2 linked regions of the Homo sapiens genome follow. The protein of the gene in region 1 interacts with the protein of each later gene in a pairwise test. Each region holds a gene or a part of one and is shown on either strand. Other genes may lie near its edges.

What was found.
Region 2: the proteins of FAM219A (region 1) and CSNK1G1 interact in a two-hybrid assay, tested with the Homo sapiens proteins (one large-scale study listed by BioGRID and IntAct).

Annotation. Positions count from the first base shown.
Region 1 is NC_000009.12:34,402,952-34,406,768, reverse strand, and holds part of FAM219A (protein FAM219A), read left to right. Parts: intron 1-804; coding exon 805-904; intron 905-3,817.
Region 2 is NC_000015.10:64,216,674-64,220,490, forward strand, and holds part of CSNK1G1 (casein kinase I isoform gamma-1), read right to left. Parts: intron 41-3,817; coding exon 1-40.

The sequences.
Region 1 (3,817 bases):
ATTAGTGAAGTGAAGAGGGCAGTGAGGAGGATGTCAAAAGTTCCAGACTCAGGACAATACACAGAATGTGTGCTTTCCTATCTTCCTGACCATCTGTAGAATCAAGTATTTTGCACTCTGGGCAGCAAAAGACTAACTGGCCACCTGCTGGTTTGTCATTATTTGTCTTCTCACCTACTGTACCTAGCCAACTTTTCAGGTTCTCCCCGGAGACACTCTTTAGGTGTCATTTGTGAACTGGAGAAGTCCTCATTAGAACTATTTTTTTGTCCAGTGGCTGTAGCCTTGAAGGCTGGTGTGGCTTGGTCAGTCAGTTCTCTGGATCCTGTGAAGGGACCTGTCCAGCACAGGGAAACAGAGGGAGAAGACCCATCTCAGACAGCACCTGCTCTCCCCTTAACCCAGACTTAAACTCACAGGAACCTAGGAAGACCTTGCCAAGCAAGTACACAGGAAGGGCCTGAGGGGAAGGGCTACTAGTATGGGAGTTAGGAGAAGGAAGTCCTGTGAGTTTAAAGAAATCATGATGGGCTTTCTGGAGGAGGCTGGACCACACAGGACTTTGAGGACAGACACCAAGTTGGGTGTACATGGAACCCAGATCCTTGGTTCTTCTACCTAGCCCAGTGTTTTTGTCCCACGGTAGATGGGTCTGCCCCTCTCTCCCTGAATGCCCTGCCTGCTCTGAGGGGTGAATGCTCACAGAAGCCCAGAGGGCAGGTGGGAAGGCTAGCTTCAGGACTGAGAGCAGCCCCCTGTCTTCACTCCCTAACAACTCTCTGTCTTACTGCTTTCTCCCCACAGGACCCAGCCGCCGCCTCCATCTCTGACGGAGACTGTGACGCCCGGGAGGGTGAGTCAGTAGCCATGAATTACAAACCATCCCCGCTCCAAGTGAAGCTGGGTGAGTGTGTCTGGGGGGTGAGGGAGATGTGGGGAGTAGGCAAGATACTCTGGGCTGGGTCTACAATGAGGTGCCACAAATAAACCAGCTCAGCCTAGATGATTCCAAGACTCAAGCCTTCAAGTCATTGGCACTGCGAGGCACCTTGTCTCCTGCAGGCAAAGAGGGCAGTTACAGTTCTCTGCAGGAGCCTGAAACTCTAAGAGGCATCTCTGAAGCCAAGAACGTTCCAGGTATTCTGGGGCATAGCTGCAGGGGGAAAAGCATGGAACCCCAGAGAGAGGACTTGGAAGTCCCATCAAACACTGGATCAGGCTGAGAGGAAGCTGCCTTAGAAGTGGGATGTTACTTGTTATGTCTAAGGGATAGAAAGGAAAGAGAGTTCCAACCCTAGAAGCCGAGCCCCTCTCCCGATTACAATCTCAGCCCATCTAGAGATCTCTGGGCCCAGTTGGCACCTATCTGGGGGAGTTTTCCCTTCGTTTCTTAGAAAACCCAAATATCTCCCTTCCTTTCTGGGTCACATTTCCCTTGTGGCTTTGTCTCATGTCCATTCCAAAGTCAGTTTACTGTGCAGCCTGATCCTGTGAAGTCCCCTCGCTTCTGGCCACTGTCCACAGCTCCTACCACTATTGCCCTCCCTTCACCTCATGGGCTGTCCCTCTCCCTTCAGGGACCAAAGTTTCACTGTCTCATGGCTGCTGTATATAACACACTTTTATGAAAACTTTGGTTTCTTGAAGAGAAATTACAAAACAGGACATACAGGAAAGAATTTACAATTAAATATAGGTCATTACTATCCTTCCAAGTTCCTCTGCCATCAAGGCCACCCTCCTGTCCATCCTCCTCCTCAGGCTCCAGCTGCCCAACAATTACTGATGCCTCCTCAGTCCTAAGGGCCCTTTGCCTACAACTTTCTCCTTCCTTTCCACAGAGGCCTGTATTTTATTATTCAACTACTATTTTTTTTTCTTACCTTGCTTGCTTCTGTCCTTCCAGACCACATCCAGGGAGCCCCTCGAGCTGTTTTTCTAAACAAGAATAGTCCTCTCCTTGGAATTTGTTTCTATTCCTAGGACATCAGATTAAAACTGCAGCCAATTTTATTTATCAGGGGTGTTGGTTGTTGTTGTTGTTGTTGTTGTTGTTGTTTTGAGACAGAGTCTCTCTCTGTTGTCCAGGCTGGAGTGCAGTGGCATGATCTTGGCTCACTGCAACCTCCGCTTCCCTGGTTCAAGCGATTCTCCTGCCTCAGCCTCTCAAGTAGCTGGGATTATAGGCGCGCATCACCACGCCCAGCTAATTTTTGTATTTTTAGTAAAGATAGGCTTTCGCCATGTTGGCCAGGCTGGTCTGGAACTCCTGGTCTCAAGTGATCCGCCCACCTCGGCCTCCCAGAGTGCTGGGATTACAGGCATGAGCCACCATACCCAGCCTATTATTGTTTAATATCACAATACAAATATTTTAACAAGCATAACTTCTTTACTCTCCCCCATCACATTCTCCTCCTAAGAGGTAACCATTCCAAGCCTTTTCAGTTTTTGTAGTTTTACTTTGTATTTTAACATAAGTGGTATCATATTGTGCACATTTTCTGAAACTTGGCCTTCCCTCTTCCACCACCTAAATCTTGGAGCTCCTTCCAATGTCATCATATTGTGACTTCATTCTTTTAAATGGTTGTATAGTAGTCTTTAGTTTGGTTTTGCCAGTTTATTGTTTGCTTTTTTCCCACTATTTCAAACAATTTCAGCATGCTTTTAAAATAACATCTTTTTTTCTCCCCATTACATTACCATCAAAGCTCCTCATGAAAATTCACAGCATTGTCCCAGTTGCACCTAGTACCACCAGGAACTTTAAGGCAAATTGCACCCCCTAGAGGCCTGGAGTGGTAATGGCAGCTGCCACCTGCTGGAAAGAAGCTGGGAAAAAGCTGGAATCAGCTGAGCACTGGCAAAGAAAGAGGGTCAAAGAGTAGAAGACAGAGATTCAGAGACATGAGGTCAGGGGAAATTTCCAAGTGAGTCACAGTAGCTGTAAAGGTCCTTCCCATCCTTACCCTCTGGAGCATTTGGCTATTTTATGAGTCATTTTCCCTAGTGTCCCTCTCCACCTAACAGTTCCTTTTCCTAGATCTGGCCTTTACTTGAGATGAGTAGGGAAGAGTAGATGGGACTCCTCCAAGACCCAGGAAGCTACTTCTGGTAACAGTTGTCACATACCAGGCAGTGGACTGGGTCACCTGATGGCCAGCTCCATGAAGCTGGTAGGCTTTGGAACCTTGGAGAACTCAGACCTTGGCAAAGGAGTCAGGAGCACCACTCAGGCAGCGTAGCCAAATGGGCTCCCCCAGCCTTCTGCCCCTTACTTTGTAGCCCCATCCTGCACCTCCCACACCATAACCTTCAGTGGCTTCTTCTTCCTTCTGCGTTAATCCCAAACTCCTCTGTCTGGCATTCAAGTCCTTCATGTTCTGAGTTTGTAACCAGAGAGGGTCTTCGGCCCCTTAGCACAGGACCAGACTTATAATTAGTGACATGGATATTTGTTGAATAAGTGGCTGAATAAATGAATTTTACTTCTCTAACCTGACCTCTCTCTTCACCCCTCTATCCAGAGCCACACTTATGCTCACTTTTAAATGCATTTTTGCACACACTATCCCTCCTTCCTAGAATGTCCACCTCTCTCCAGGTCATGGTGTCACCTAAAGGAAGCCCTCTCTGACTGCGCCATCCTTCTGTGATTGTCTCTCCCCCGCCAGCCTTTCCCTGGCATCAAGTACACACTAACTACCCTAACATGGGAGTTGTGGTTCCTGAAAAACAGGGGGCAGCCTCCTCTTTTTGCCCCCCACTGTCTGCCTCAGGTTGTGCAGGGCCAGGTACTATCTCCACCAAGCAG
Region 2 (3,817 bases), on another chromosome or scaffold:
CCACATGGTCCAAAGTAATACACCTGTGGGAGACCTTCACCTGAAAGCAGAGGGGAAATGGGGGTATACAGTGGGAGACACAAAAGCCAAAATATGAGATAACAGTATTAGCACTGAATAAAATATTTTTAAAAGTACAATTTGTGAGATTTCCATTTTCTTTCATAGTCCCTACTGGAAACTCAAACTGAGCACAACAGCTTCAATGGGAACTAATAATGATGGGAAAGGCTAAGTCATTGCACAATACGTTCAAATGAGTAGTTATTTAATACCACAGTGCCAAAAACATTTCCACTGCTATAAGATAGAGAATGGTCCCTGATCCATTGGATCTTCCCAAAAGGATGCCTGAAAGTGCAGTATCATAAAAGGCTCAAAGGATGGCTCACTGAGCTCAAAGGCCAGGCTAACATAACTTGTTACATTATCTGGTTCATGAGCACTCTCTATGCTTACTGCCATAGCCACATGGGCTATTTGGAACTGTTGCCCTATGGACAACTCAGACTGAAGAGGCAAGGTCACAGAGCGTGCAGCCTGGCCCCAGGCCAGCACAACTGGCCCTCTTTTCACAGGGAGTCTCTATAGTTTTTTGTTTTTTATCAGCTGGAGAAAAGTCAACAGACACTTAGTGTTTGGTTGCTGATAAGTGCTGATGAAAGGAAAAGGGGGAAAAAACACAAGGCTGGGTTTTCCCCAGATTTGAAATTCATAACTATTAAGAAGCCAAAATCCAGACTTTCTCACCTAAGTGGCAAATTGTGAATGAATTTCCTTTATAAAGTGCATTGTAAATATGAGGCATTCACTAAATATATAACTGGTACCATGAGAATAGTAGATATTAAATAGGATTACAGACGCCAGGCGCAGTGGCTCATGCCTGTAAGTCCAGCACTTTGGGAGGCTGAGGTGAGTGGATCACAAGGTCAAGAGTTTGAGACCAGCCTGGCCAACATGGTGAAACTGTCTCTACTGAAAATACAAAAATTAGCTGGGCATGGTGGCACGCACCTATAGTCCCAGCTACTCAGGAGGCTGAGACAGGAGAATCGTTTGAACTCAGGAGGCGGAGGTTGCAGTGAGCTGAGATGGCGCCACTGCACTCCAGCCTGGGTGACAGAGCGAGACTCCATCTCAAAAAAAAAAAAAAAAGATTATAGAACACTTAAAAAATTATCTGGTTTCACAGAGCAGAAACATTCCCATCTTATATATTTATGTATATAGTGGTCTACAGTTGCATATGTTGTAGATTATTGTTTGCTTCTGCCTCTAAGTGTTTTAACTTGAGACAAGGTCTCAGTGTTACCCAGGCTGGAGTGCAGTGGTAAGATCTCGGCTCGCAATCTCTGCCTCCCGGACTAACGCGATCTTCCCAGCTCAGCCTCCCAAGTAGCAGCTGGGACTGTAGGCTCGCTCTACCACACCAGACTAAATTTTTGATTTTTTATAGAGATGGGGTCTCACTATGTTACTCAGGCTGGTCCTGAACAACTCCCAAGCTCAAGCAATCCTCCCTCCTTGGCCTCCCAAAGTGCTGGGAATACAGGCATGAGCTACTGTGTCCAGCCCCATTCCCTTTTTATTTCTATGGGTGGGATATAGACAGATGTACATCTAACACATACTTCTCTCGAGGGTAGGTCTCACATATTTGGAATTAATAACTATTTCATATATTGTATTAGTCTATCTTGATTCATTAAATCCTAAACAACTTTTTTTTTTTTTTAGACAGAGTCTCATTCTGTCACCCAGGCTGGAGTATAGTGGCGCAATCTTGGCCCACTGTAACCTCCGCCTCCTGGGTTCAAGCAATTCTTGCGCCTCAGCCTCCCAAGTAGCTGAGATTACAGGCATGGTGTCCACCAATTTTTTTTTGCATTTTTTGGAGAGACAGGGTTTTGCCATGTTGGCCAGGCTGCTCTCGAACTCCCGACTTCAAGTGATCCATCCACCTCAGCCTCCCAAAATGCTGGGATTACAGGCGAGAGCTACCATGCCCGGCCTAAATCCTAAACAACTTGAACATTTTCTTTAAATATGTTTATTCCTAGCTTGTATCCTCTAACATATGTTACTCCTGCTAGTTCAATAAATATCTGTTCAATTGTTTTTGTTGTTGTCTTGATTCTCCCTATCTCCAAAAGAGAAAAGGATTTAATTTGAAGTGTTTTTTTTTTTTTTTTTTTTTACATGGAGTTTCACTCTGTAGCCCAGGCTGGAGTGCACTGGCGCCATCTCGACTCACTGCAACCTCCGCCTCCCGAGTTCAAGCCATTCTCCTGCCTCAGCCTCCTGAGTAGCTGGGATTACAGGTGCACACCACCACGCCCAGCTAATTTTTGTATTTTTAGTAGAGACAGCGTTCCCCCATGTTGGCCAGGCTGGCCTCAAACTCCTGACCTCAGGTGATCCGCCCGCCTCAGCCTCCCGAAGTGCTGGGATTACAGGCGTGAGCCACCACACCAGGCCCCAAAGAGTCTTTTTTTCCCGGTTGTTTTGAAGAAGTCATTTTTCAGCTTTTTAAAAATATATAAAACCCAACTAGTTGTTTCCAATGACTCCTGCTGAGACATCCAAAGCAGAACACTCTGTCCTAGAGATTTACTGCTTTTATTAATCAGACACATGGTAAATGCAGTTTGGGGATCTTTTAAATTTATGTCCTATATAAGGATTTAATGCCACTAAAATGTTATTTTCCTAATATAAATATTATATTCTTCAAAGCAGGTTGTGGCAGCGCCTGTTGTTTGCATGCCCAATATCCATTCTCCCTCTCCTTTTTTCTTTTGAGACAGTGTCTCACTGTGTCACCCAGGCTGGAGGGCAGTGGTATGACCATGGCTCACTGCAGCCTCGACCTCCTGGGACCAAGCAATCCTCCTGCCTCAGCCTCCCAAACAGCTGGGAGCACAGGCACATGACACCACATCGGGCTAGTTTCTTAAATTTTTTCCAGAGATGAGCTCCCACTATGTTGTCCAGGCTGGTCTTGAATTTCTGGGCTCAACTGATCCTCCTGCTTTGACCTCCCAAGTGCTAAGATTACAGGGATGCCTCTCCCCTTCTTTTTTTCTTTTTCTTTTCTTTTCTTTTTTTTTTTTTTTGAGACAGAGTCTCGCTCTGTTGCCAGGCTGGAGTGCAGTGGCACGATCTCAGCTCAATGCAACCTCCACCTCCTGAGTTCAAGTGATTCTCGTGCCTCGGCCTCCCAAGTAGCTGGGATTACAGGCACGTACCACCACACCTAGCTAATTTTTAAATTTTTAGTAGAGATGGGATTTCGCCATGTTGGCCAGGATAGTCTCGATCTCCTGACCTCGTGATCTGCCTGCCTTGGCCTCTCAAAGTGCTGGCATTACAGGTGTGAGCCACCACGCCCAGCCTCCCCTTCTTTTAAAATAACATAACTTTTTTTTTTTTTTTTGAGACAGAGTCTTGCTCTGTTGCTCAGGCCGGAATGCAGTGGCGTGGTCTCAGCTCACTGCAACCTCCGCCTCTTGGGTTCAAGCCATTGTCCTGCCTCAGCCTCCTGAGTAGCTGAGATTACAGGCACCTGCCACCATGCCTGGATAATTTTTGTATTTTTAGTAAAGACGAAGCTTCATCTTGCTGGTCAGGCTGGTCTTGAACTCCTGACCTCAAGTGATCCACCCAACTCAGCCTCCCAAAGTGCTGGTATTATAGGCATGAGCCACCATGCCTGGCCCAGAACTTCTAATTGTTGCAAATAGCAACTTGCCCAGTTATAACTCCAGTCTCCCTTGACAATTAGGAAAGACCAATGAGATGGAAGCAGAAATGA